Homo sapiens: one gene and its partners. The protein of the gene in region 1 purifies or fractionates together with the protein of each later gene. This does not show direct contact. Each region holds a gene or a part of one and is shown in the gene's direction. Other genes may lie near its edges.

Region 1 (7,021 bases):
GACCTGGTTCAGTGACCAGATAGAGTGGAAGGAGCTGCCCTGAGGTACAGGAGACTTCCAATAGGCAGGTAAAAAGTGGTTATTAGAGTCTGGGTGCAGTGGCCTACACCTGTAAGCCCAGCGCTTTGGGAGGCCGAGGTGGGGCGGATCACTTGAGGTCAGGGGTTGGAGACCAGCCTGGGCAGCATGGCGAAACCCCGTCTCTACTAAAAATACAAAAACTAGCCGGACGTCATGGTACACGCATGTAATCCCAGCTACTGAGAAGCGCTTGAACCCGGGAGGCAGAGGTTGCAGTGAGCCAAGATCATACCACTGCACTCCAGCCTGGGCGACAGAGCAAGACTCTGTCTCAAGCTGGGCGTGGTGGCTCACGCCTGTAATCCCAGCACTTTGGGAGGCTGATGCGGGTGGATCACCTGAGGTCGGGAGTTTGAGACCAGCCTGACCAACATGGAGAAACCCCGTCTTTACTAAGAGTACAAAATTAGCCGAGCGTGGTGGCGCATGCCTGTAATTCCAGCTACTCAGGAGGCTGAGGCAGGATTGTTGCTTGAACCTGGGAGGCAGAGGTTGCAGTGAGCCAAGAGCGCATCATTGCACTCCGCTCCAGCCTGGGTTACAAGACTCTGTCTCAAAAAAAAAAAAAAGTGGGGGGTTATTAGAGAAGTCAGCCTTGACCGAAGTGAGTTGATCTGGTGTGTGAGTGTAAAGGGTAAGTCAGTGACCTGCCCGTAATGAACAGATGGGAAAGTAGTTACCGGCGTGCTTTGGCGAGTGGGAAGCCTCTTTGGGGGGCAGGAAAGAGGCAGTTTATGGGTTCCACTTTAGTAAGGAAACACGGACAAAGATCATAGTGGTTGTGAGCAGTCAACCAGGTCAGCCCCTGTGCTTTGTGGGCCTTAAATGATTACATCTTCATAACGGCCTAGTGAGGGAGGTATCCACATCCTCATTTTGGGGGCACGGAGGAGCTAAGCCTCTTGTGTGAGGTCCCACAGTCCATGCAAGGGTGTTATTCCATTCTAGAGTGTTTTGCTGTAGAGTTACTGCTTTTAACTGTTAGGCTTTTGAAGTAAAAACCACAGGTATCTTTGTGGGAGGAAAAAGACAGTAAAAACCAGAGAACTAGAAGTTATGCTGAGAAGTGGCCATCCTGGGTCCCAAGTCCACTTCTGTGGCCCTCCCTGGGCTTCAGTGTCAACTGATGACTTGCTTTCTTCCTTTTTTTTTTCCCCCTGAGATGAGATCTCACTATGTTGCTCAGGCTGGCATCAAACTCCTGGGCTCAAGCGATCCTCCCACCTCAGCCTCCCAGAGTGCTGGGATTACAGGCGTGAGCCACCATGCAGGGAAGAGGTTCCCTGTTTGTCTGGAAGACCCTCCTATGTGGCTGTGGGCGTGACTCTTCGTGTCCCCAGCATGGGGCCTGCCTCCTGCTGGCCCAGCACTTGGTTGTGGAGGGTCAGAGCTTGGGCACCTTGGGCCCCATCCTTAGGGGCCTCTACCTCCAGGTAGGAGCCTGGGGACCTCCAAGTCTCCTGGGGTGACTTGGGATTCAGGTCTGATGGCTCCCATGGAGGTGAATAGGGTGGGTGGTCTTTGGCAGTGGGTAGGGCTGAGGCCTTGACTTGTTCTCTTTCCCATTCTTAGGGCTGACAAAGAAGAGAACCAAAGTCCAGAAGAAGTCACTGCTTCTCAAGAAACCCCTTCGGGTTGACCTCATCCTCGAGAACACATCCAAAGTCCCTGCCCCCAAAGAGTGAGTGTCCCAGCATCCCTGGGCCCTTCTTTCCCACCAGACTCTGGTCCTAAAGGGTTTCCGGGGCTGGGGGCTGGTAGGTGAGGGTCATTTGAAGGGTAGGGCAGGCTCAGGTTTGGGCTTCGGAGTGCAGATTAGAGGGAGGGAGTCTGGGTGCCCTGGTGCTGGGCCGAGGCAGGTGAGGAGGGGCCTGGACCCAGCTGGGGGCTTCGGGGTTGGAGAGGAGGGGCTGAGTGGGAGGCGTGTTCAGGAGGCACATCAGGTGGGTCTTGGGGCATGAGCGGGTGAGAGGGTGGACAGCTGGCCTTCCCCTGAGATGGGGATGTGGAGGAGTGGGATTTCGGGTGATGCTGAGGTTGGTTTTGACGTGGTGGTGTGAGGTGCCTGGGGTATGTCCAGGACGGGGCTGTTGCTTCGTTGAGTCTGGGGCTCAGAGGGGAGGCCTAGGCTGGAGACAGACGTGGGGAGAGGAGTTCTCTGAAGAGGGGGCGGAGTGCCACCTTTTGGAGAGGGGGTGCTGAAGCTGCCTTAATGGTGGAGGAAGCCCGACGGGGAGGAGGCCCTGCTGCCGTTCAGGCTGCCACCTCACCTGCTGCACTTGTGCCCCCTCTCCCCGACCAGCGTCCTCGCCCACCAGGTCCCCAACGCCAAGAAGCTCAGGCGGAAGGAGCAGCTATGGGAGAAGCTGGCCAAGCAGGGCGAGCTGCCCCGGGAGGTGCGCAGGGCCCAGGCCCGGCTCCTCAACCCTTCTGCAACAAGGGCCAAGCCCGGGCCCCAGGACACCGTAGAGCGGCCCTTCTACGACCTCTGGGCCTCAGACAGTGAGTGATCCTGCTGTCACCTATGAATGGGGACAGGACGGCCATGTGCAGTTTGTGTGTGTTGTGCACTGCACGAGAGTACAGTGTGAAAGGGAGTGCTTTGTGGGTGCTTTGGTGACCTCCCAGCAGAGTCGTGCGTCCTGAAGGGGCGGCCGTTTCCCACTCGTGCTTTTCCTTTCCTGAGTTGTGAGGCTTCAGGAAAGGAAGCCTTCAGCTTTGGTCTCTTCCACTTTCTGAACCCGTCCAGACACAGTTTTGTCCTGGTGATCAAGGCCCTTGGGGTCTAGAATCAGTCCTTCCCTTGCCTGAGCTTCAGGGTCACCTTTTTGAAATGTGGAGGGATTGGGGGGGAGCCTTTGGTGCCTCTTCCATGCTGGGACTGTCCCAGCAGCTCCCCTCGCTGTATCCACAGACCCCCTGGACAGGCCGTTGGTTGGCCAGGATGAGTTTTTCCTGGAGCAGACCAAGAAGAAAGGAGTGAAGGTGAGATGTGTGGGAAGGGCATCCTGGGTGATGGGAGGGTGAGGAGGGCCGGGAGCTGCTCTGTGTTCCTGCAGTAGAGTCTGTCTCAGAGCCCTTCCATCCCAGTGGCCGAGAACTCTGTGCTGGAGCCAGGTGGCTGGGATTCCTGTCCCAGCTCCAGTGCTGACTGATCCTGGGAAGGTGGTCTCACCTTTCTGCAACCTATATCTTCCTCTAAAATGCAGATGAGGGCCGGGCATGGTGGCTCACGCCTGTAATCCCAGCACTTCGGGAGGCCGAGACAGGTGGATCACCTGAGGTCGGGAGTTTGAGACCAGCCTGACCAACGTGGTGAAACCCTGTCTCTACTAAAAATACAAAAAAAAAATTAGCTGGGCTTGGTGGCACGTGCCTGTAGTCCCAGCTATTAGGGAGGCTGAGGCAGGAGAATCGCTTGGACCAGGGAGGTGGAGGTGGCAGTGAGCCGAGATCATGCCACTGCACTCCAGCCTGGGCAACAAGAGCGAAACTCTGTCTCAAAAAAAAAAATAAAATAAAATACAGATGAAATTGTACTTAGATCATGGGTCGGTGGGGAGAATGTAAAGAGGTAGCACATGAGAAGGTGGAGCCCGTGCTGGCAAGTGGCAGAAGTGTCACGGGTTTGAGTTTGGATTTGCAGCCTCCTTCTTGAGCTGCTGGACCCCAAGTGTTAGAGCCCAGGTGCTTACAATCTCCGGGGCTCAGCCTCGTGGGTAGCAGAGGATAGGCTGCTATCCTTTTTCTGAGATGGAGTCTTGCTCTGGAGTCACCTGAATGCCCCTTGAGCTCTTCCCACACCCAACCACTGGCAAGGCCTGGAGCATCTGCCCCATGGCTGTGTCCTGGGTCACCCGCAGCCCCAACGCACGGCCTTACCCTGCCTCGGCCTTTTCTCCACAGCGGCCAGCACGCCTGCACACCAAGCCGTCCCAGGCACCCGCCGTGGAGGTGGCGCCTGCCGGAGCTTCCTACAATCCATCCTTTGAAGACCACCAGGTACACTGCCCCGTCCAGGCCTCCCTCCTCAGTGGGCTCTGCCTCTTGGTCAGGCCTTCACTAGCTTCCTCCCTGTGCTGGGAACTCCAATGACCCAGACAGCCCTGGGCCTGTCCGCAACGGGGCTCACGGTCCAGTGCAAGAGACCTGTTCCCAGACAGTGATGGGCAGAGTGGTTGGGGCTGGGAGCCCAGACGGGGCACCTGGCCCAGCCTGGGGGGTCAGGAAGGGCTCCCGGGAGGAGGGGTCGCCTGAGCCGAGGCAGAGGCTGAGGGAGGGGTTTGCAGTGGGAGGAGGGGAGTGGGTTTTCCAGGTGGTGGGAACAGCACTGCAAAGGCACAGAGTTGAGAGAGACCGTGGCGCCTTCCAGGAAGCCTGTGGGGCAGAGATGAAAAAGGCTGTGGTGACACGGTGGCACACTGGCAGCCAAGTGACAGTTATATATGGGCGAGGCTAGCTCAGCGATGGGAAAGTCTAGCTGGAGCCACTGTGCATTTAGCGGGCATCTGTTGAGCACAGATGCTGTGGACAAAGGGGACAAAAACCCCTCCCTTGGCCGGGTGCGGTGCCTCACACCTGTAATCCCAGCACTTTGGGAGGCTGAGGCGGGCAGATCATTGGAGGTCAGGAGTTGGAGACCAGCCTGACCAACATGGTGAAACCCTGTCTCTACTAAATACAGAAAATTAGCAGGGCATGGCAGCACGCATCTGTGGTCCCAACTGCTTGGGAGGCTGAGGTGGGAGGATTGCTTGAGCCCAGGAGGTCCAGGCTGCAGTGAGCTATGATCGCACCACGGCACTGCAGCCTGTGTAACAGAGCGAGACTCAAAAAACAAGCACAACCCTCCCTCAAGGAACAGCCCTTCTCATGGGGTCACGTGACTGGAGAGATGCTGAGATGTTTGCGGTAGATGCAGGACCGCTTGTCCGAATCGTTTTCAGCATTCATAAGAAGGAGATAGCTAGCCAGGAACAGAGGCAGCTTCCTCATCTGGTAGAGAAAAGTGTCTGCGGAAAAAAGCAACAGTGTGCTCATGGTTGAAAGCGTGAGGGTGCCGCTCACTGCCATCTGTTCCTGGACCAGATGTGGGAGGGGGCGTGGAGATCAGACATTCACTTTTAGATTTGTACAGAACTACTTCGTAGAGATAAAATTCACTTAACCATACGGTCAGCCTAGTTAGAGTATGTGATTCAGTGGCTTTTAGTGACCATTGTGTAACCATCCCCGCAGTCAATTTTAGAACATTTTCACTGTCCGTAAAGGAAACCTCACACATGTCAGCCATCACCCCCGCAATTCCCTGTCTCGTGTGGTCTTGGGCTGCCAGGCTTCCTGTCTCAGGGACCAGCCCACCCTGACCAATTCACATAGATGAAACTGTGGGCCGGGCATGGTGGCTCACACCTGTAATCCCAGCACTTTGGGAGGCCGAGGTAGGTGGACCACCTGAGGTCAGGAGTTCAAGACCAGCCTGACCAACATGGAGAAACCCCATCTCTACTAAAGTTACAGAATTAGCCGGGTATGGTGGCACATGCCTGTAATAGTAGCTACTCGGGAGGCTGAGGCAGGAGAATCGCTTGAACCCAGGAGGCGGGGGTTGTGGTGAGCTGAGATCACACCATTGCACTCCAGTCTGGGCAACAAGACAGAAACTCTATCTCAAAAAAAAAATGTGAAGCGTGCAGGTCAGACTGCCTTCACAGACGTGCAGAGCAGGTGTGAGGGCGAGGGTTTGAGGTGCCCTCTGGCTCTGTGCAGGGTGGGTGTGCTGGTAGACGGGGTGTGGGGAGGAAAGCCTGGGCCGGGGCGGGATCCACGGGCACTGGATGAGGGACAGATGGGAGGTAAGAGGGTCTAGTCTCAGTGTCCCAGGAGGGGTTCAGGGACCCATCCTCACTCCCGCCCCTCAGACCCTGCTCTCAGCGGCCCACGAGGTGGAGTTGCAGCGGCAGAAGGAGGCGGAGAAGCTGGAGCGGCAGCTGGCCCTGCCCGCCACGGAGCAGGCCGCCACCCAGGTGAGCCCCGCACCTGCCCACTCCCTCCCCTCCCCGGGCCTCCTACCCACCCCTGACACTGCACCCCGCCTCCCCAGGAGTCCACATTCCAGGAGCTGTGCGAGGGGCTGCTGGAGGAGTCGGATGGTGAGGGGGAGCCAGGCCAGGGCGAGGGGCCGGAGGCTGGGGATGCCGAGGTCTGTCCCACGCCCGCCCGCCTGGCCACCACAGAGAAGAAGACGGAGCAGCAGCGGCGGCGGGAGAAGGCTGTGCACAGGCTGGTGAGCGCCTGGGCCAGCGGGGCCTGCCTCTGATGCCTCGCCCCCTTCCTTCCTTCCTCCCACCATGGGCTGCCCTGGGTGCTGCGGGCAGCCTGCACACCCCAAGCCCCGCATGTGGCCTGTGGTTTGGGCTGTTTGGGATCCTCACAGCTGAGACTCATTTCCCAGCCTCTTCCAGGCAGGGCTCGGGCTGGGGTGGGACAGGGTCCCTGGCGCTTCTGTTTGAGGGGCGGGGTGGGGGGAGGTTTCTGCACCGCAGACCAGGGGAGATGGATGACAAAAGGGGCTTCAGCAAACAGCTGCTGGGAAGGCACTGGAGGGGCCGCTGATGTGACGGGGTTAGGAAGGGCCTCCGGGGACAGGCAGGTTTGTGCAGGGAAGGCTCCCTGTGTAGAGAGAAGGTCTCCCTGTGTGGGCAGCACCGGCCTGAGCCCTGACCCTCCCCCGTCTCCACAGCGGGTACAGCAGGCCGCGTTGCGGGCCGCCCGGCTCCGGCACCAGGAGCTGTTCCGGCTGCGCGGGATCAAGGCCCAGGTGGCCCTGAGGCTGGCGGAGCTGGCGCGGCGGCAGAGGCGGCGGCAGGCGCGGCGGGAGGCTGAGGCTGACAAGCCCCGAAGGCTGGGGCGGCTCAAGTGAGAACCAGGCCGGGGGTTC
Region 2 (7,021 bases), on another chromosome or scaffold:
GAGTGAGGTGGCACCTGCCTACTATAGTCCCAGCTACTTGGGAGGCTGAGGCCAGAAGATCTCTTGGGCCCAGGAGGTAGAGGCTGCAGTGAGCTGTGATCATACCACTGCATTCCCACCTAGGCAGCAGCAAGACCCTGTCTCAGAAAAGAAAAAGGACAAAAAAATGGCTCACAAAAGAGGAAACAAAGGCATAAAAAATATTCGGTAATCAGGAGTAATTAAAATATATCAAACAAGGCCGGGTGCGGTGGCTCATGCCTATAATCCCAGCACTTTGGAAGGCAGAGACTGGGGGATAACGAGGTCAGGAGATCGAGACCTCGGTGAAACCCCGTCTCTACTAAAAATACGAAAAATTAGCCGGGCACAGTGGCGGGCGCCTGTAGTCCCAGCTACTCGGGAGGCTGAGGCAGGAGAATGGCGTGAACCTGGGAGGCAGAGCTTGCAGTGAGCTGAGATCGTGCCACTGCACTCCATCCTGGGCGACAGCGAGACTCTGTCTCAAAAAAAAAAAATGAAACAGTTGCCTTTTTTGACTGGTTAAATGATCAGGTAGGAAGAATTTTACATGTATTTATGGGCACTTATTTGTAGTTTTTAAATTACATACTTGGTACTGGCATAATAGGAGAGCTTGCTGGTGATCTTTATGAAGTGACATAGTCTCATTGGGAAGTCATCTGTCTACATTTGTTGAGAGCCTTAAAACTTTTAGAACCTGTTTTATTCTATTTGTGGAGACCTGAATTTAAAACATAGAGAAGTTTTGTACGTAAAGATGTTTGGTGATGTGATTTTACAATTGAAAGTGGGCTAAGTGTCAAACTACAGGTCAGCCATTAGGTAAATCACAGTATATCTCTCAGTGAAGTTTTCCATAGTCAACCACTATAAACCATAATTATGCCAGAATTATGAAAGACAACAATATAGATAAATGTGAATCATAAACAACATTAAAAGTCTGATAGAAAATAGTAGGCCCATCCAGCCTGGGCAACATGGTGAAACCCTGTCTCTACAGAAAAAAAAAAAAATCACACATGGGGCATGCACCTATAGTCCCAGCTATTCAGGAGGCTGAGGCAGGAGGATCACTTGAGTCCAGGAGGTTGAGGCTGCAGTGAGCCATGATTGCACCACTGTGCTCCAGCCTGGGTGACAGAGCAAAACCTTGTCTCAAAAAAAAAAAGCCAAAATGGTAGTGTTTTTAGGCACTTCCAGAAGTCTTATTAACCTGACAACAGTGTTGAGAAACAACCCAAAAACGAATGGCCACCAGGTGGAAGGCTTCCAGCGACATCCCCACATTCCCAGCAGAGTGTTGATAGCTCAGGGCCACAGCCAGGACAGCACAGCGGGGGCTGGGGAGAGGTGCTACTGTTCATACCCCATTCTTGAAACAGCATACCTTCAGCAGACACTTGTGAAGCAGTTCATCATCCTAGGCACTCGTCATGCAAAAACTGAAGATGGCCAGTAAAAGGCCCCGTGCACTTCCCCAAAAGTTGGGCTCCTATCTCCATGACCCAGGCTCCCGGCCTCAGCCTCCTGCCTTGGTAGGCCGCCAGGAGGCCTGGTCAGCAATTCTCTGGCCTGGCTGGCATGTTTGTTGTGCACTGCCTGCAGCTCACGTTAGGATCTGTGACTTTTGCAGTGTGATTTGTTCATCCAGGAGGGGGCCCGTCTGGGAAGAACCCCCGCTGAAGTCGTCTCAACCTGCGACATCACTTTCGCCTGCGTGTCGGATCCCAAGGCGGCCAAGGACGTAAGGACCCCCTCCCTCCCCTCAGCAACTCCGGGTCACAGCCAGGATTGCTGGCTGGCCTCTTCCCCTCCTCCCCTGCACACCAAGTGAGTGTCCACATGTGGGGGGCTGAATTTCCCATCAGGGGCCATCTCCCATTGTGAAGGGTGTTTGCATTAATTGAATACAGACTTCCTTTAATTCAGATCAAAGAATGAACACTACTAGGGCCCTTGAAGTCTGTGCTGAAATGTGTCTTGAACAGGCTTCATGTGTTCTTGTTGAACTAGAAGCTTTGGAACTGAATGTGCCTTTGGTCCAGGTGCCAAGCTTCTATGTTTAGCTGTCACTGTATTTGTATATTTTAGAAGTTCAAGTGTGGTAGTCATCTTATTAAACTGGTGACTAGCCTAATCCAAGTAAATCCAAAGAAGTCCCCAAAGTAAATGCTGAGGTTTATTCTTTTAAATGGGGTTTGTTTTTTTTTTTTTTTAAATAAAAAGAAATGCACACACTCACATAGATTCTTTTTAAAGATAAATGGGAGCATGCGGGAAGTACTTTTCTATCCCTTGCTTATTTCATTGTTCTTCCCTTTTCAGCTGATAGAAATCAGGAAATGAGCCAAAACAGCAGCAGGATTCTGATCTGAGGTCTGTAGGGCTCCTGAGCATCTGCCCGGGAGCCTGGGCTATTGCTTCTCCCTTGTGTCCCCACAGCTGGTGCTGGGCCCCAGTGGTGTGCTGCAAGGGATCCGCCCTGGGAAGTGCTACGTGGACATGTCAACAGTGGACGCTGACACCGTCACTGAGCTGGCCCAGGTAGCAGCCTTCCTTGGGCTGGCTCTCCAGCATCTTTTCTATCAGAGCCCAAGACCCAGGCTTACAAGAGTGGGCAGTTAAGTTACTCTAGAGCCAAAGCCAGAGAGGGAAGAGGAGAGGCGAGTAGCCTTGGGACTAGCCTATCCCGTGCTCCACCTTCAAACCGCAGCTAGTCTGAACAGCCATGGGCAGTCGCTGCATGGCTGGGATGGGCATCAAGTCCTGGAGCTGCCAGCCTTATGATGAGAAGCAACCCAGGCCGCCCGCCTGGCATTGGGGTTTGAGCAGCTGTCTGCATTTGACACTGGCAAAGCATCCCTCCTCCCCGAGCATCTGGCCCAAATAAGGGAGTGGGGACTTTGGGACCCACATATGTTCTGAGGGGAGGGCAGCATCCACAGGGGAGGTGTGTGTTCAGCCGAGCCATTGACATGGTCACATCTGGTTCTAGTTGTTGGTCTCTAAGAAATTCCAGTCCGGGCGCGGTGGCTCACGCCTGTAATCCCAGCACTTTGGGAGGCCGAGGTGGGCGGATCACGAGGTCAGGAGATCGAGACCATCCTGGCTAACACGGTGAAACCCCATCTCTACTAAAAATACAAAAAAATTAGCCGGACGCGGTGGCGGGCACCTGTAGTCCCAGCTACTTGGGAGGCTGAGGCAGGAGAGCGGCATGAACCCAGGAGGCGGAGCTTGCAGTGAGCTGTGATCGTGCCACTGCACTCCAGCCTGGGCAACAGAGCAAGACTCCGTCTCAAAAAAAAAAAAAAAAATTAGCCAGGCATGGTGGCGGTTGCCTGTAGTCCCAGCTACTGAGGAGGCTGATGCAGGAGAATGGCATGAACCCGGGAGGCAGAGTTTGCAGTGAGCTGAGATTGCGCCACTGCACTCCAGCCTGGGCAACAGAGCAAGACTCTGTCTCAAAAAAACAAAACAAAAAAATTCCGGCCAGGCGTGGTGGCTCACTCCTGTAATCCAAGCACTTTGGGAGGCCGAGGCGGGCGGATCACAAGGTCAGGAGATCAAGACAATCCTGGCTAATATGGTGAAACCTGTCTCTACTAAAAATACAAAAAATTAGCCAGGCGTGGTGGTGGACGCCTGTAGTCCCAGTTACTCGGGAGGCTGAGGCAGGAGAATGGCATGAACCCGCGAGGCGGAGCTTGCAGTGATCCGAGATCGCTCCACTGCACTCCAGCCTGGGCGACAGCGAGACTCCACCTCAAAAAAAAAAAAAAAATTCCAAGTCAGTTGGGTTCCTGTGTGGAGACCCCAGCGTCTCATCACTGCTGTGATTCGGCCTGTGTGACCTGCACATGGTTAGCTCCTGAGTTTAGGTGTCAGCTAAAGGACCTTGGTATGGGTGGCCGTCCCCTCCAGCTCTGGAAGGTGATGAGCAGCCGTGGCCACTCAGCAACACTCCTTGAGTCCTGCCCAGAGAGCGCTGGGAGAGGGGAGGCCTCCAGAAGCTGTGACTTTTCTTTCCAGGTGATTGTGTCCAGGGGGGGGCGCTTTCTGGAAGCCCCCGTCTCAGGGAATCAGCAGCTGTCTAATGACGGGATGTTGGTGATCTTAGCGGCTGGAGACAGGGGCTTATATGAGGACTGCAGCAGCTGCTTCCAGGCGATGGGGAAGACCTCCTTCTTCCTAGGTAACACGCCTGCACCTGTCAGGCCTGGAGCCTGGGGCCACATCTCCTCTGTTTCACACTGATGACAGCGTCAGTCCCACACGGCCTTTCTGCCGGGGACCCTGGGGAAGGTTTCCTTTCACCTGCATAGTCAGTGCGTGGAAGGAGGAAGAGCCAGTCTGTCGGGGGCAGGTGAAGGGGGCCTCCCCTGGAGAGAGGTGGGTCTGAGCAGAGGTGAGGGTGGACAGAGAAGCCCTGTCTGTGGCATTCTTGGGCTGTGACCGTGAGTCTTTACCCTGGGCAGGTGAAGTGGGCAATGCAGCCAAGATGATGCTGATCGTGAACATGGTCCAAGGGAGCTTCATGGCCACTATTGCCGAGGGGCTGACCCTGGCCCAGGTGACAGGCCAGTCCCAGCAGACACTCTTGGACATCCTCAATCAGGGACAGTTGGCCAGCATCTTCCTGGACCAGAAGTGCCAAAGTGAGTTGTTTTTGGCCCCTCTTCTTGCATTTGGTGTTTGATTAGAGCAGGGTACTAGGTCAGGGATTTAGTGAGCGTGAAAGATGCCCCTCCCCAGTCAGTCCCTGACCCTGGCCAGAGGAGGTTCAGAAACACAGTGGGCGGGATTTGGGGATATAGGCTGGGAGCTGCAGCCCTCAGGTGTCTAAGGGTGAGTGAGGAGCCAAGAGGCCTAGGCTATGTGGAACTGAGCCCTGAGTATGTTTTAGGTACTGACACCTGGTGGACCGTAAGTAGTTTTTAGTTTCAGGTCCTTGGCTTTTGTCTGATACTGGCTTTTTCTCCTCAGATATCCTGCAAGGAAACTTTAAGCCTGATTTCTACCTGAAATACATTCAGAAGGATCTCCGCTTAGCCATTGCGCTGGGTGATGCGGTCAACCATCCGACTCCCATGGCAGCTGCAGCAAATGAGGTAGGGTAGATGTGGCCCAAGCCCCAAGGCCCTTCAGTTTCTTTTTCTTTCTTTTTTTTTTTTTTTTAACGGAGTCTCACTCTGTCACCCAGGCTAGAGTGCACTGGTGCGATCTCAGCTCAATGCAACCTCCGCCTCCTGGTTTCAAGCAATTCTCCTGCCTCAGCCTCCTGAGTAGTTGGGATTATAGGTGCCCACCACCATGCCTAGCTAATTTTTGTATTTTTAGCAGAGATGGGGTTTCTCCTTGTTGTTCAGGCTGGTCTCGAACTCCTGACCTCAGGTGATCCACCCGCCTCTGCCTCCCAGAGTGCTGGGATTACAGGCATGAGCTACCACGCCCAGCCATTCAGTTTCTTTTTCTTTTTCTTTTTCTTTTATTTTGAGACAGAGTCTTGCTCTGTCGCCTCAGGCTCTTGCCACCACGCCCGGCTAATTTTTTTTTTTTTTTTTTTTTTTTTTTTTTTTTTAGTAGAGACAGGGTTTCACCATGTTAGCCAGGATGGTCTCGATCTCCTGACCTCGTGATCTGCCCGCCTCGGCCTCCCAAAGTGCTGGGATTACAGGTGTGAGCCACTACACCTGGCCAAGTTTCTTTTTCTTTTATCGTTTCCTTCCCTCTACTTAGTTTAGCTTTTCTTTGTTCTTTTTCTTTTTTTTGAGACAGAGTCTCACTCTGTCGCCCAGGCTGGAGTGCAGTGGTGTGATCTCAGCTCACTGCAGCCTCTGCCTCCTGGGTTCAATAGATTTTTGTGCCTCTGCCTCCCAAGTAGCCTCCCAAGTAGCCTGGGATTACAGGCGTGCCCCAACCCGCCCTGCTAATTTTTGTATTTTTAGTAGAGATGGGGTTTTGCCATGTTGGCTAGGCTGTTCTCCAACTCCTGACCTCAGGAGAGCCACCTGCCTCAGCCTCTCAAAGTGCTGGGATTACAGGTGTGAGCCACTGTGTCTGGCCTCTTTGTTCTTTTTCAAACCCTTTAAAGTGGAATCTTAAATCATTTATTTTAATCCTGCTTTCTTTATAACATGAGTATATAAATCTTTAAATGTCCACTAATCCGTGTTAATTTGTTTTCTGATTTCTTCTTTGATCCATGAATTACTTAAAAGTTTATCTAGTGTTTGGGTTTTCCTAGATATCTAATGATTATTGATTTTTAACTTACTGCTCTATGATCAAAGAACATGCCCTGCCCTGTATTGGGTTTTTTTTGTTTTTTTGTTTTTTGTTTTTTTGTTTTTTTTGGAGACAGAGTTTTGCTCTTTCGCCCAGGCTGGAGTGCAGTGTCGCGATCTCGGCTCACCGCAACCTCTGCCTCCCAAGTTCAAGCGATTCTCATGCCTCAGCCTCTTGAGTAGCTGGGATTACAGGCACACACCACCATACACAACTGATTTTTGTATTTTTAGTAGAGATGAGGTTTCACCATGTTGGCCAGGCTGGGCTTGAACTGCTGACCTCAGGTGATCCGTCCACCTCAGCCTCCCAAAGTGCTGGGATGACAGGCATGAACCACCACAACCAGCTGCCTGTATGATTTTTTTTTTTTTTTTTTTTGAGACGGAGTTTCGCTCTGTCACCCAAGCTGGAGTACAGTGGCACGATCTCGGCTCACTGCAAGCTTCGTCTCCCGGGTTCACTCCATTCTCCTGCCTCACCCTCCTGAGTAGCTGGGACTGCAGGCGCCTGCCACCATGCCTGGCTAATTTTTTGTATTTTTAGTAAAGACGGGGTTCCACTGTGTTAGCCAGGATGGTCTCATTCTCCTGACCAAGATGTTGAAACCCCTATCTCTACTAAAAATACAAAAAATTAGCTGGGCATGGTGGCAGGCACCTTTAATCTCAGCTACTCAGGAGGCTGAGGCAGAGAATTGCTTGAA
Region 3 (8,004 bases), on another chromosome or scaffold:
TCCCCCAGCCTCACCTGTGGTCATGTGAGGGGGTCCCATATAACCAGCTAAAGGAGGAGGGAAAAAGACCAAGTTTGCGTTAAGGATGGGCTAGCTTAATATGTGGGTACAAGCTGAAAATGCATGGCAGCTATATTACAGTCTCACTCAGGGAAGTCCTTGAAAAACAGTGGTAAGGGAAAATCTCCCCAGCGGGAGGAGCTTTGAGAGTGTACCTAGTCATCACTTCGTATGGAAGGAGTATGGCCTAGGGTTAGAACATACATGGTCTCATGGGCAGTGATGGTGGCCTGGCTGGGAGTTTGGGAGCCTAAAAGTAAAAGGAAGCATATGAATAGATGTATGGAAGTGGGCAGTTCATATCACATTAAGACCCACAAAAGATGTGCCAACTACACAAAATAACTTGGCCAGTTAATGTTGGCCAGGCTTAGTGACAGGCCCCCTCCCCCACTGCTGCTCAAAGAGGCCATGGTGGCCAGGAGATGGAAGCGATGCAAGAACCTAACAGCATAGATTATCATTTGCCAAAATAAACACAGCTACTGCCACCTCTGAGTGTCTGATCTGCCAGCCATAAAGACCAATGCTAAGCTCTATTCCTTAAGGAGACCAATAGACTACTTGGGGACCAGTAGACTGCATCGGGCCCCTTTTGTCCTGGCAGAACCATCGGTGGTTCTCACAAGAAGAGGCAGTTATTCTGGATTTGGGGTTGCCCTTCCTCCCTGCAGAGCCTCAGTAGTAGCACTCTTTTTTTTTTTTTTTAGATGGAATTTCACTCTTGTTGCCCAGGCTGGAGTGCAATAGTGCGATCTCAGCTCACTGCAACCTCTGCCTTCTGGGTTCAAGCGATTATCCTGCCTCAGCCTCCCAAATAGCTGGGATTACAGGCGTGTGCTACCACACCCGGCTAATTTTGTATTATTAGTAGACACAGGGTTTCACCATGATGGTCAGGCTGGTCTGGAACTCCTGACCTCAAGTGATCCCCCTGCCTCAGCCTCCCAAAGTGATGAGATTACAGGCTTGAACCACCGTGCCCGGCCAGTAGCACCACTTTCTGGAGACTTAAAGATTGCCCGATCCACAGACATGGAATCACACTTAACATAGCATCTTATCAGGTGAATCTTTTCATGGCACAGAAAGTGGAGGGAATGAACCCATGAACATGGTACTATCCATGGTCCTATCATACACTTCACCACCCAGTAGCTATAGGATGAAGTATTGGAATGGCTAGTTAAAGATGGAGTCAAGCACCAGAATGGAGCTGATACCCTACAATGATGACACAGACTCCAGAACATCGTGGTATATGCCTTGAATCGGTCAAGTTAGTATGGTACTGTGTCCATACATGAGTCTGGAAAGAATGGGTAAGCCTGAGTGGCCCTACTTAGTATAATTCCAATGACCCCCTGCAATTTCCTCTCCCAGCAATGCTGGGCTCTGCAGAGTTATAGGTCTTGGTTCCCCAAAGGGGCACACTCTTGCCTGGAGATACCACAGAGATCCCACTGGACTACTGTGATGGCTGTCACCAGGTACTTTGGCCTCCTAATGGTCAGAGACTAGCAAGTAAGAAAGGGAATGGCCATCTTATTCGAGGTAACTGTTGCTGGTCAGCAGGAGGTGTGGCTGTTGTTACACAATGTGGGCAGGTGGAATATGTATGGAATTCTGGTGACCTATTTTGGTGTCTCTTGGTAATCCTTTGCCCAGCTGGGACTGAGATGTGCTCAGACCACTTTCAAATAGGGCACCCGACCAGATTAAGCTACTGAGAGCAGCTGAGGTGGTGGCCAAGGGTGAGAGGGATTGGAATGGATAGTGGTAGAGGGATATGATGAGGACCAGACCACCAGCTGTGGCCTTGAGACCAACTGCAGTGACAAGGACTATAGTTCATTCCACTAATTTCTCTCTGGTAAGCTTCCTTGTAGGAAGAGTGACCCTGAAAAGCCTGTTCCCTAAATACAAATGGATAAAGAAAGCCATGTAGTACAAAGGGTGGACTACAGCTGACACAGGGTGGCACTCAGGTCAAGCTTGCAGCCCAGCTTTGAGGAGCATGTTTAGCCAATATCCTCCAGCTTTAGCTCTTTCAAGATCTGCCCCAGCATTCGAGCTGAAGTCATCCACTTCTCTGGTGGCCCCCACCGGTGACTGAGCAAGGCAGTACAAGGGCCTAGCCTTTTCTGTCCAAAGCTGGACTCCTACTCCAGAGCTCCTCATTGGGCTGGCAGAGACTTTGTTAGGTCCGCACAAAAGTCTGATAGGCCCCATGGATCAATCATGCTTTTTCCTTTGACTTTTTCTGGCATTATGCCCCAGAAAAAGTGCAGAGAAAGTTCTGCACTCTTAACTCCATGTCAGGATCTCCTTCCTGGAGAACCCAATCTCTGATGGCACATATTTCAAAATTTTTCAAAATGTCTCCTTTTCCCTTCCCAGAACTCCTTAAATCACCTTTCTCTTTCACTTTCCCTTTCTTTTTTCCTTTCACTTTCCCTTCTTTTTTCCCCTTTTCCTTTTCCTTCCTTTTTTTCCTTTTCCTTCCTTTTCCCCTTTCCTTTCCCTTCTTTCCTTTCCCTTCCTTCCTTTCCTTTCTCTTCCTTTCCTTTCCCTTCCTTTCTTTCCTTTCCCTCCCTTTCCCTTTCCATTTCCCTTTCTCTTTCATTTTCACTTTCCCTTTCCCTTTCTCTGTCACTTTCCATTTCCGTTTCCCTTTCCCTTTCCCTCTCTTCCCTTTCCAAAAGGATCTTCCTCTGTTGCCTTTGCTGGAGTGCAGTGGCACAATTGTAGCTCACTGCAACCTTGAACTCCCGGGCTCAAGAAATCCTCCCGCCGCAGCCTCCCAAGTAGTTGGGACTACAGGCACATACCACTATGTCTGGCTAATTTTTATTTTTAGTGGAGATGAGGTCTCGCTATGTTGCCCAGGTGGATCTCACAGTATGTTGCCCAGGATGGTCATGATCCTCCCGCCTTGGCCTCCCAAAGTGTTGGGATTACAGGCACAAGCCACTGCACCTGGCCCTTAAATCATTTTTCATGGCTTCAAATTGGAGGAGATTCTATGTCTGTACTCCCAACCACTGTAGCCAAACTAGACTCTTCAGTCTCTCATCTTCTATATTCCCATTGTGGCATTTACCCATGAATTTGCTTATATTTCCATGCATTTTTTCATGTCTTCGCATACATGCTCCTTGAGTGCAGGGACTGTTTTTTAAACTTCTGCATGTCCTTACATTACTAACTAATGTAAATACCACATAGAAGATAGTCAATAAACATCTAGAACTTAGTTGATTTGATAATAAAAGGTCCCTGGGAACCTGTCAGACCACAAATAAGGCCAAGTGGATTAAAAGACAACTATAGAAGCAGCAACTAGAGGGAACAAGATGTCCCTCTTAGACATCCTAAGATGATCCTATGTGGCCCCCATGTTTGGCTGGTTTTCATAACAAAGTACTCTATTCCTGAAAGAGGGTTTATATACCATGAATGACAAAACTGAGGAGAATTCTCATTAATCATTTTGAAGAATTTCTAAGTTAGCAACCAGAATCTATTATTTTTTAAAAAGATGTATTTCTTATCTGATCAAATGACCCATCTATTTTATTTGAAGATGTTGGAAAAAAAAACCTTTTTTCTCTTCAACTTGTGTCCTGTCTTTGGGGGCCTAAAAATTAACTGGCACTAGACAGATAAATAGGAGAAAAGACAAAGTTTATTTACACATGCATGCAGGAGCTTCCAGTAACAGAAAACTCAAAAGTAAAGGTTTATATACCTCAACTTAACAAAAAGGAAAGTTTTAGGGCTTCAGTAGGAGAGTTTGGAAGTTTTGATTGGGTTGTTTTGTGTTTTTGAGACAAAGTCTCAGCGCTATCCCCCAGGCTGGAGTGCAGTGGCACAATCCCGGCTCGTTGCAGCCTCCTCCCGTGCTCAAGCAATCCTCCCACCTCAGGCTCCCGAGTAGCTGGGACTGCGGCTGCACACCACCATGCCCGGGTTGTTTTTATTATTATTATTATTATTATTATTATTATTATTATTATTATTATTGAAGAGAGCTCACTATGTTGCCCAGGCTAGTCTTGAACTCCTGGGTTCAAGCAATCCTCCCACTGCCTCGGCTTCCTAAAGCGCTGGGATTACGGGCTGAGCCACAGCACCCAGCCCATTGGGTTTTTTGGTGCTAATGGTAATGGGACAGTCTGTCTTCCTGGCAGCTGAATACTCCGAGAGGCTTTTAATGGCACCATGTTTTCGGGAGGTTTTGCTTTAGTCAGATAAGGGAAGTTTCATTAAGATTTCTTTCTACATCTTCTGTAGCTCAATGTTTTCACTTAAAAACAATCTTTATGTCAACTCTGGGGGTCAAAGTACGTCCCCACGGTGGAAAAGTTCTTGTCCCAATCTCTACGGGGAGGAACCGATCTGAAATCTTGGGATATGTCTTAGCATGTCCACCGTGATTGAGGTACAAGCAGTGGTTCAGGGCACCGAGTTAGCGATTCTAGGTAAGCAAGACCATGTCAAGAAGTGGTTTGTCCAAAAGTTCGTGAGAAGGCAGAAACGAGGGAGAGTGGCAATCGTTGTTCTTTAAGAGGGCACGGTGGTGGAGGAGAAACTTGCACATCGGGGCCTGGGGTACCACGATCTGGGGCCTGGGGACGCGATTTGGGGAAACTCGGTGGCATCTGGGCTCCGCTTGATGCCAGTGCGTGTTCGTGCAAGTTACTTCCTCAAGTTCAGGGTGAGGATAATAATATCTACCATGTGGAGTTGCTGGGAAGATTCACTACCAACAGAGGCAGAGCGCACGGCTCGCAGGAAGCGCTCGCTAGGGTCTGCTCTTTCCGGGAATGGGTGGGGTGCGCACTCCTCAACAGGGCTCTCAGGACTTGCGTCACACGCCTCAGTCGGCTGGCTTATAAAACACCGGCCAGAGCCCCAAGATCGCTTTTAGTTTCTCTTCTTTCTAAAGAAGGCTCGCGGAGCCCGGCTGGAGAACCTCACCCTCGCCGAGCCTAGAACCGAGAGGGGGCCACCCCAGGCGGTCACCAGCAGATTTGCCCGCGCGTTCTCTTTCTTTCCACCCAGTTGCCCTTGCGGCCGGCTGTAAACCTGCCACTAGGACCCGGTCGGTGAGATCTAGCCTCTTGACCTGAGAGCCGAGAGTGGATCGCTGGGCTGGGCTAACGGCGACGGAGAGCGCGCCCTCGCTGACTCCGGGCGCGCCCAGCAGTAGCACCGCCCGCGCCCGCCCCTGGACACTTGTAAGTTTCGATTTCCGATTTCCGCGGAACCGAGTCCCGCGCCGCGGCAGAGCCAGCACAGCCAGCGCGCCATGGCGGACCCGGAGGTGTGCTGCTTCATCACCAAAATCCTGTGCGCCCACGGGGGCCGCATGGCCCTGGACGCGCTGCTCCAGGAGATCGCGCTGTCTGAGCCGCAGCTCTGTGAGGTGCTGCAGGTGGCCGGGCCCGACCGCTTTGTGGTGTTGGAGACCGGCGGCGAGGCCGGGATCACCCGATCGGTGGTGGCCACCACTCGAGCCCGGGTCTGCCGTCGCAAGTACTGCCAGAGACCCTGCGATAACCTGCATCTCTGCAAACTCAACTTGCTGGGCCGGTGCAACTATTCGCAGTCCGAGCGGTGAGTGCACCCGGAGGGAGGGGCGCTGTCCGCAGCCGTGGTCGGGGTGGACTGTCCAGGCGGGCAATGTTCTGGGAGGGGCACGGCTTCGCCGGGACCCCGCACCTGACAGCCTCCGCCTCCAGCCACTCCCTTCTCTGCTCCCCTCTGGGAGCCTCTGCAGGGCCCGCGCTTCTACCTTTGCAGTTCCCTTCCTTCCGGCACCTCCAGACATTTTCTCGAGAATGGCTAAAATGCTAGTGCCTGGAGGAGACCAGGCTCAACCTCCACCCCTTTCCCCGCCCGCCCGCACGAATCAGAAGAATAAAGTGCTCTGGAGCCAGCCAGGGCCTAGAGAAGCGGTAGGCAGGTTTGGGAAGGAAGGAAAGAGCCTCCCGTCTTTGGTATCTTGAGTCTTTCCCTCCCTACTACCTCCTTCCCTAGACGTGGCGGAGCCAGTAACCCAGCCGCCCTGGGCCCCCGGTCCGTCTCCGCCGGAGCGAGCCGCAGGTCTCTCTGCTTGTCCCTCCCTTCCCGGTCACCCCCATGCCCCTCATCACCGCTTTTCTGATGCCTGGCGCGTAGCAGGGGTGGCCCTTTTCCAGGTTCCTGAAGTTGTAGCAGCCGCGGGCCTTCCCTCCGGGTGGTCTCTCTACGGTGGCGCGCGCAGTTGACCGCCTGCCTTGGGACAACTCTCTTAAATCCCTTTGAAGCAGTGTGGCTCACGTCTCGGGCCACTGCTTCTGTTGTTTCCGTTTGCCTTTTTTTTTTTTCGTCTAAATGCAGATGCGCTGCAAGGTTTGGGTTAAGACTCTTGAGTGATTTTCTTCCCAGTTTCTCCCTAAGAGAGCTTGCTCCCTCGAGGACAGCTGCACATCTAAAAAGATGGCTTCCAGGTCCACATTCGCTGCCCAGGCCTTTCCCTTGATCCCAAGCCCTTCCTCTCCCGCGTGTGTCCTGTCCATGGAGTCAAACTCATCTTTTCCCCCAGGCAGGGTTTTAATCCTCCTCACAATCTGTCATCACCAAGTCCTTTTTGTGAAGTCTCTTTCCCTTCTTGGCGGATTCTGCCTTCCCATCTAATTTCTGAATGAACTGAATGAACGCCTTGTTGAATTAATGAATGGCCAGTCTTTCCTCCCACCCTTTCTGTCACTATGTGCTCTGCTCAATTACTTTTCTCGATACAGTACTTTTTACACTTGGCCCATTCTTAAACACTTTGACTTGTGTCCCAGGGTTTAAAATGGTTGTCAGCAAACTTTTTAGGCTGGAGTGCAGTGGCTCCACCTCGGTTCACTGCAACCTCCACCTCCCAGGTTCAAGCGATTCTCCTGCCTCAGCCTCCCGAGTAGCTGGGATTACAGGCATGCACCATCGCACCCGGCCAATTTTTGTATTTTTAGTAGAGACAGGGTTTCACCATGTTGGCCAGGCTGGTCTCGAACTCCTGACCTCAGGTGATCCACTTGTCTCAGCCTCCCAAAGTGCTGGGATTACAGGCATAAGCCACCAAGTCCGACCAGTCGGCAAACTTTTGATCACGCACCTAACAAAAACTCCAGTCACTCACCCCCAATATACGTGTAATAAAACACACAAAGGTAAGTGTTTTAGATGGATGAGGTAGAGGACGCAATGTATTTTTTTAAAAATTTCTTTAGAGCAAAAACCCTTTCAGCTCACTCTAACGTTTTTAAAAAGTGCTTGAATGTGTTCCTTTATTTAAAATTTTCTTTAATATGTTGTGGGGCAACAATTTGAAGGTTGTTTCTGAGTTGCTGGGAGTTATGGGTATCGAGGAAATCATCTAAGTCATTGCTGGTCACTGAAGAAATCTCTGAGAAGGAGAAGAGAGCAGAGGGTGGAGGATAGAAAAGGAAGGAACATTCTAGCATGTTCTAGCACTACACCAAATAACATGGTTGGAAGGCTTTGTTATGTTTTTTCTGTTCTTATCTTTTCTATTATGACAAATTCTTCACCAACTAGTGTTGATTTTTAGTATGAAATACATATGCTTTTTATTTTTTTATTTCTTACTATGGATATTTTCAACATACTCAAAAGTAGAGAGAAAAAAATGATGAAGCCCCTTGTACCCATCATTTCAACAGTTTTGAAAATATGGCCAGTTTTGTTTCATTTATTCTCCCTATTCCCCATGTGTCCCCAACTCCAATGTGTTATTTTAAAGCAAATCTCAGCAACCATTTGATTACTAAGTACTTTAGTATCTCTAAAACATAAGAACTATGTTTTATTAACATAATACAGTACAATGATCACATTTTTGTAAAAAAAATTACAATTTTAATATCATCTATTGTCCAGTTGGTATTC
Region 4 (7,021 bases), on another chromosome or scaffold:
ACCTATGCACCCCCCAAACTCAGATCAGTAAGTTCTTGGTTTTTGTTTTTAAACTAAAACATGGAGGAGGAGCGGTGTAGAAATTTGAAAAACTGCTTTGATGTACGTTGTCTTGTGGAAATTTTAGAGTTGCTTCCTTATTTAGGGAAGATAATTTACTCAACTCCCTTTGAACACGTTTGCTAATTCCATTTAGGTTTTATTCCAGTAAACAATAGAATTGACCCTAGTTTTACTAATCATATTAAATTTTTATATCTTAATTATAATCCAGAGAGTATCCGCTGGCTAACCTAATCTGAAAATTAACTAACTCGTGGAGGAATATTCAAGCATTCGGATAGTTTTAAATTCAACTGTGCTAATACAAAAAAAAAATTAGCTTGGCATTAAAAGGTTAGAGGAGGATATGTTTGTAAAACTAAGTGGACGATGAAAACCTGGACTTTATATCATAGAAGAACAGAGTGAAGGTAAATTGCACTGCCCTTCAAGTCAGTCATGGGAATACAAATGAGAATTCATCATTTAGTTCCCTGAACTTTGCTTGCCTCATCATACAGTGAGCTCATTGTCCATTTGTCCTCATTTTCCAATCACAAGGGATAATGAAAATAATGAGACTGACTTAACAAATAACGCCAGACTATACATTCATTGGAGTTTTGACCCTCTTAAAATTGGCATGCAAAATAATTTCCTGATGGTAGCCACCCACGTAAGCTTATGGTTTGATGACCATAGCAGCACCTTCTGTTTTGGAGATTTTTCTTACTTCCTGAAAAATACAGTATCCCACGGTTCTGAGGCAGGACTATATGCTCAGAAATGACACAATGATTATTTGAATATATTCAGTGGTAGAAAGTATCTTTTTAGTGTTGAATGTTTCAGTAACAGCAAAAAATCATTTGGAACTTAGCATGCGTGTAAAGTAATGAGACAAATTGTCTTTTCTGGTATTGGGGGCATTTTCAAAAGAGACTTAAAAAAAAAAAAACCTTCGGGGAAAATGGAAGCATAATTGGAATATATGCATGGCTTTCCATCTGGATAGCTCTGAAGAGATTCCTAAGTTCAGATATGTTAGTTGAAACTGCTCTTGAGAGTCATCTTGGGAAGGGATTGTTAGATACTTGAGGCTGAAATTGTTTGTTCCTTATTGATGAAATTAGGCACCTACCCTCTCTTTCGTGGCATGAGGCTTTGTATTTATTTAATGTACATTTTTAAATTGGGAATAGACTAAAATGGAGCTCTGCACTTGTTAGTTGCCAGAACTCATTTACATCCTACATGCCTTAGACTTTGAAAATATAGGGCCAGGCACGGTGGCTCACACCTGTAATCCCAGCACTTTGGGAACCCGAGGCGGGCAGATCACAAGGTCAGTAGTTCGAGACCAGCCTGGCCAATATGGTGAAACCCAGTCTCTACTAAAATACAAAAATTAGCCGGGGGTGGTGGCGGGCACCTGTAGCCCCAGCTACTCGGGAGGCTGAGGCAGGAGAATTGCTTGAACCTGGGAGGTGGAGGTTGCAGTAAGCCAAGATGGCACCACTGCACTCCAGCCTGGGTGACAGAGCAAGACTCCGTCTCCAAAAAAAAAAGAAAATGTAAATAAGAAATTATATACATGGAAAATGAAGGCTAAAGGTTAAATTAAGCTAAGCTACCTAGTGAGAAATTAAATGTTTTTTACTAAAGGGTCATTTTATAGGTGAGGTCTTAGTCTAAATGTTAGTATAGAAATTTTTCATGAGGAAATGTTATGTAAGCGTGTTTATGGTAAAGAATGTGATTTTTGGAGATAATCCAGTTATGAACTGAAAAGGGAAGCTTTTCAGTCAAAATGAGTGTTTTGATTCTGTTTATTGCATACAGGTCTCTTTTGGGGAAGAGCATTTTCTTTGTCTCGCTATTCTGTTAAAAGCTCCCTTCTTATCACCACCACCTCCTAGGCTTCTTTTTCTTGGAAAATTATTTAGAATATATTATATTACACATATAGCTTGACCTTTTTTTTAACAGACATTGGTAAAAGTCAGGTATTGTTTTTAATAGATATTGTCTGCCAGCAGTATTTACTGCTCTTGATGGAAAAGAACATTTCTAGAAAGAGCTCGTGTTTCTGTTTGATTGTCTACAAAATGAAATTGTTTGCTACCTGGCACTCTCTTCCTTTCCTTCTCTCTGCATAACTGCCCCCTGTAGACAGACAGATAAAACAGTAGAAAGAAGAAAATAAAGCAGAGCCCTGTTCCTGACAGCATTTGTTCCCTAGGAAATGATTGAAGCCATCCGCGAAGCGGTGGTCTACCTGGCACACACACACGATGGCGCCAGAGTGGCCATGCACTGCCTGTGGCATGGCACGCCCAAGGTAAGTGTGACAGCACTTGGGCATTTAAACTGTACAAGTCAGGGCCATGCTTTATCTGCAGGCTTGACTTAGCTGTCCTTAGACTTTTAACCCCCTTTGGTCTTTGCCCTGTTGTGCATTATCTTCCAAAAGTTGTGCCTTAGAGCCTGATGGGAATGAGCCATCTTCTTTAGGCCTAGTGTTTCTTCTTTCCTCTGCTTTAGTAGAAACCTTGAAGTTTCATTAAAGGATGGGAAGAGATCTATCAAGCAAGTAAACATAATATGTATTTAAGCTTTAGTTTATAGAGGTTTTGGTACCTCCTCTTTTAATGATCATACTGTGGCAGGGGAAAATGGGAAGAGATAACAAACAGCTGGCCACACACATTTGCTCCCATAGGTGTTATGTACTTGAGGGAAAAGGTAAAGATCCTTATTAATCACAGAAGTTTAACAGAAATTATCATTATTTCCTTGGTCAGCATAATTCTGCCTTTAAAAGATAGTTGTACTATATCTACTTTTTTTAATGCAAATTTAATTTTATTCAACAAATGCAGATGAGTACTAACTGTTTGCTAGACTCTGCATTTGAGGACAGTTTAGACCTTGGAAGAAGGATCTGTCTGGTCTCACTGTGAAAGGTGGCTTGCAAACCCTAACCCTAACCCTAACCCTAACCCTAACCCTATCACATACACATCTAAGCTTGTAATAGCTCTAAGCCAACTTCTTTGGTATATTACAGTTTTTTTGTTCTGGCTGTATAACTATTATTTTTACTAATGAAAACATATGCCACTCAAATGAAAACTTAATAAATATTATATTAAAATGTTTAACTACAAAATACCCTTAATACATAACTGAAAATTCAGTGAGACAATCTTTCCTTTTTAAGGACAGGAAAGTGATTGTGAAAACAATGAAGACTTATGTTGAAAAGGTGGCTAATGTAAGTATAATAAAACTACATATTCTAATTATTTTTGATAGTAAGATGAATTCATGTCTATTATAGAAAATTTGGAAAAATTCAGAAAATTACCAAGCAGAAAATTATTGTTTTATTATATTTTTCTTTGCATCTACATGTATTTTCATATTTTATCTACACAAAATGGAAATCATGTCACATGCATTCTTTTCTCCTTTTTTAATTTAACATTGTATTGTGATAGTTCTCTACTTTTATTAGATATTCTTTGAAAACCTGATATTTACTAGCTTTTTTGGTGAATTTGTCCAGTCATGTTAATTAAATATGGGAATTACTGCCTGGATACAGTATGTACATATTTTAGTCTCTGGGTAAATGATGCCAGATTGCACTTCAGAAACTTGATAGTAGTTTTCCTTATGACCAAAACCATAAAAGAAATTAAAATGTATCTTTTTTTTAAGAATAAATTTGCAGTGTGGTTATGGAAATTTTTAGTTGTTAAATTTTATAGCTCTTTAGAAATGCAGTAACAATTTTCCTAATGAAATTCATAGGTACAAAAGTTTTTTCTGGGGGATTTGTTGCTTCAAAAATAGTGTTTATATGTTTTTAGTTATTAAATAATTTTTCATGCTGTTGCTATGGTGTACTGTAACTAGAATATATGTAGTGAATACAATTTTAATTTTTGAGTTATACTTTATATATTTGATGGATAACAAATTTCTAATTTATTGATGAACTAAAATTATGTAGTAATCAACTACTTTATCCTTTGAAAACATCCAGTGAGAACTACTAGCATCTGGGGAATACTTCAACTTGTTTGAAATACTAAATCAAACAAGTTAAAATTAATGCTGTGTGATTGTGTACTTGACTATTGTCTTCTGTTGGGCTAGAAATTAGAAGAATTCAGAAGGCAGCTAACGTTCCTATAATAAAGTGAAATATGGAATTCTCATATTTTTTATAATTCATAATTCAATATTCATATATATTTCATAATTCATAATTATAATATGAATTATAATGTTATATATTATATAACATTATATTATTATGTTATAAATATAAATATAATTCATAATTATAATTCATAATTCAATATTAAGTAAATTTTTTTGCGTGACATTCTAATTTGAATACCTTACATTAAAATGAGTAAAAACTAGAATGTTAATAGAAAATTCACAAAGGTATTAAGAGTATAACATTTTAAAATAATAAAATTATATTGTTTTAGTTCTACAGTTTGTTTATGTCAGGTAATTTAACACTAAGTACATATCTTTTTAAATCTCGAAGAGTTACTTCTAAAGGGGTGATAAGCTAACGTTACCCATGGATTTGATCCATGGATTATTTGGAATTATTAATTTCCAAATATTGGGGGTTTCTGGATATATTCTATATTCTTTTGTTCCTTTTAAATTTACTGAGACCTGTTTTATGGCCTAACATATGGTCTAAGTATTTTGAAAATAATATATTGTAGAGTTGTTTGGTGGGGTATTCTATATTTGTCAATTAGATCAAAGTAGTTGACAGTGTTCATACCATCAGTGTTTTTACTGACTTATTATTTTCTAGTTCTATCAGTTGCTGAGAGAAACATGTTAAAATTTCCAACTATACTTGTGGATTTGTCTGTTTCTCACTTACATTCAATTCTGTACCACCTTCTGTTGTATTCACCTAGAAATATTTTATGCTTGGTTATGCTTATGTGTGTCCGAGTTAAGAGAACTGAAACCAGTGATTTTGTACTAGGCACGTTGTTCTATATTTTGTCTCCTTCACTTAATTCATATTATGGGTCATTTTATTTCAATATACATACATCTGTCTACCTCACTTTTCTTAGTGACTGTAATATTTCATCGTGTGCCTATACCATAATTTATTTAACCAGTCCCCACTGTTGGGCATTTTGGTAGTTTCTAGAGTTTTTAAAATTACAATTAGTACCCCAGTGAATATATTCATATGTAAGTCTTTGTACTTACATGGAAACACGTCTGCAAGATAAATCCCTAGAACTAGAATCACTGGATCAGCTCATACCTGCATTTTAAATTTGTATAGGTGTTGTCAATTGCTCTTCAAAGAAGTTGAACCACTTTACATTCTCATCAACATAAAAGCGTGCCTGCTTTTCCCTAAACCTTTGATAAATTAGTCTATTGTCAGAGGTTTTCACCATCACCCATAGGATAAATGGCATTTCATTGTTTTAATTATTGTCCTTAATTAGTTCATAAAGCATTATTTCATACATTTAAAGACATTTGTACTTCTGTTTTAGTGTGATCTGACTCTTCATGTTCTTTTTTTTTTTTTTTTTTTGAGACAGAGTCTTGCTCTGTCGCCCAGGCTGGAGTGCCGTGGCGCGATCTGGGCTCACTGCAAGCTCCGCCTCCCAGGTTCACGCCATTCTCCTGCCTCAGCCTCCTGAGTAGCTGGGACTACAGGCGCCCACCACCATGCCCAGCTAATGTTTTGTATTAGTAGTAGAGATGGGGTTTCACCCTGTTAGCCAGGATGGTCTCGATCTCCTGACCTCGTGATCCACCAGCCTCAGCTTTCCAAAGTGCTGGGATTACAGGCGTGAGCTACCGCACCTGGCTTTGCCCATTTTTAGTTGGTTGTTGGTCTTTGTATAGTAAGACCTTTGTTGTTTGTCTTCAGTTTGTCTTTTTGACTTTACAGTTAGCAACTTCGTTATTGTTTCTAATTGAAATTGTATTATCTGTGATATTTATCAGATCTGGCTCTGAATGATTGTGGGCTATTATCAAAAATCAAATTCCTATCAGAGTTTGAAACAATTATATCAACATCCAGGATACTCATGCCACAAGCTCTGGAAACAGGTTTTTGTTTTCTTTTGTTTTTGTTCTTAACATAAAGTAGGTGTTCTTTAAATGTTTGGAACAGTATTAGCATCATGGAAATAATTTTATTTCAAAAGATGAGTGTTGTGAAAGCCACATGTGTATTTCTGTGATCTCATGCAGCTATACTTTTTTTAAAGTAATGATTTTTATATCATTCTCATTCAGTGTATAATTATACTCTTCTAGTTTATTTTTTCATATTTATATTCTAATTTTGTGAGATCACTTTAAAGAAATTGAGCAATATAGAAAAGAAAATTAAAAATCATTTGTATAACCCAGAGATGACTATTACAATGCCTTGCCTTCCAGGATTTTCTGTGTACATGTATTATGTATATCGTGTGTGTGTGTGTATGTGTGTAAAATTGTATGAGTTTATATTTTCTTTTTCATGATTGGAGTATCATATATGTGTTTATATATGTAGGTTTTTTGAAGTTAATCTTATAACTTGAACTTTTAAGTATAATTTTCAAGTAGCTATTCATTAACAGTAACCTATGTAAATAGGTATTAGTTTTAGACTATTTGGTAATGAATAATGTGCTTTAAAAAAAAATCAACCTTACCTCTAGAATATAATTAATGAGGTCGTGATAAGAGAGGAAGTTCATTAAAATGGCTTTTATTCATCTTGTTATGTTAGACAAGTTGTCAATGTAGGTAATCTTTTTTTTTTTTTTTTTTTGAGCGGAGTCTCGCTCTACCTTTATGAAGATATTCCATGTGTGAAATAAGAGGGAAGATCTATGCACTTGTTTTTAACCTTTGCTGGCTTCCAATTCTTGCAGGGCCAATACTCCCATTTGGT

What was found.
Region 2: the proteins of NOP53 (region 1) and GLYR1 purify together in Homo sapiens (affinity purification with mass spectrometry; 2 studies listed by BioGRID and IntAct, with this or other methods). This does not show direct contact.
Region 3: the proteins of NOP53 (region 1) and ZC3HAV1 purify together in Homo sapiens (affinity purification with mass spectrometry; 2 studies listed by BioGRID and IntAct, with this or other methods). This does not show direct contact.
Region 4: the proteins of NOP53 (region 1) and PUM3 purify together in Homo sapiens (affinity purification with mass spectrometry; 3 studies listed by BioGRID and IntAct, with this or other methods). This does not show direct contact.

The regions. Positions count from the first base shown.
Region 1 is NC_000019.10:47,748,525-47,755,545, forward strand, and holds part of NOP53 (ribosome biogenesis protein NOP53), read left to right. Parts: intron 1-1,653; coding exon 1,654-1,762; intron 1,763-2,383; coding exon 2,384-2,583; intron 2,584-2,995; coding exon 2,996-3,066; intron 3,067-3,987; coding exon 3,988-4,083; intron 4,084-6,002; coding exon 6,003-6,107; intron 6,108-6,184; coding exon 6,185-6,367; intron 6,368-6,823; coding exon 6,824-6,999; intron 7,000-7,021. UniProt on the Homo sapiens protein: Nucleolar protein which is involved in the integration of the 5S RNP into the ribosomal large subunit during ribosome biogenesis. In ribosome biogenesis, may also play a role in rRNA transcription.
Region 2 is NC_000016.10:4,809,287-4,816,307, reverse strand, and holds part of GLYR1 (cytokine-like nuclear factor N-PAC), read left to right. Parts: intron 1-1,660; coding exon 1,661-1,771; intron 1,772-2,352; exon of another isoform or gene 2,353-2,469; coding exon 2,470-2,571; intron 2,572-4,059; coding exon 4,060-4,222; intron 4,223-4,505; coding exon 4,506-4,685; intron 4,686-5,013; coding exon 5,014-5,138; intron 5,139-7,021. UniProt on the Homo sapiens protein: Cytokine-like nuclear factor with chromatin gene reader activity involved in chromatin modification and regulation of gene expression. Acts as a nucleosome-destabilizing factor that is recruited to genes during transcriptional activation.
Region 3 is NC_000007.14:139,106,702-139,114,705, reverse strand, and holds the start of ZC3HAV1 (zinc finger CCCH-type antiviral protein 1), read left to right. Parts: upstream 1-4,985; 5' UTR 4,986-5,374; coding exon 5,375-5,682; intron 5,683-8,004.
Region 4 is NC_000009.12:2,820,079-2,827,099, reverse strand, and holds part of PUM3 (pumilio homolog 3), read left to right. Parts: coding exon 1-27; intron 28-2,284; coding exon 2,285-2,383; intron 2,384-3,265; coding exon 3,266-3,319; intron 3,320-7,001; coding exon 7,002-7,021. UniProt on the Homo sapiens protein: Inhibits the poly(ADP-ribosyl)ation activity of PARP1 and the degradation of PARP1 by CASP3 following genotoxic stress. Binds to double-stranded RNA or DNA without sequence specificity. Involved in development of the eye and of primordial germ cells.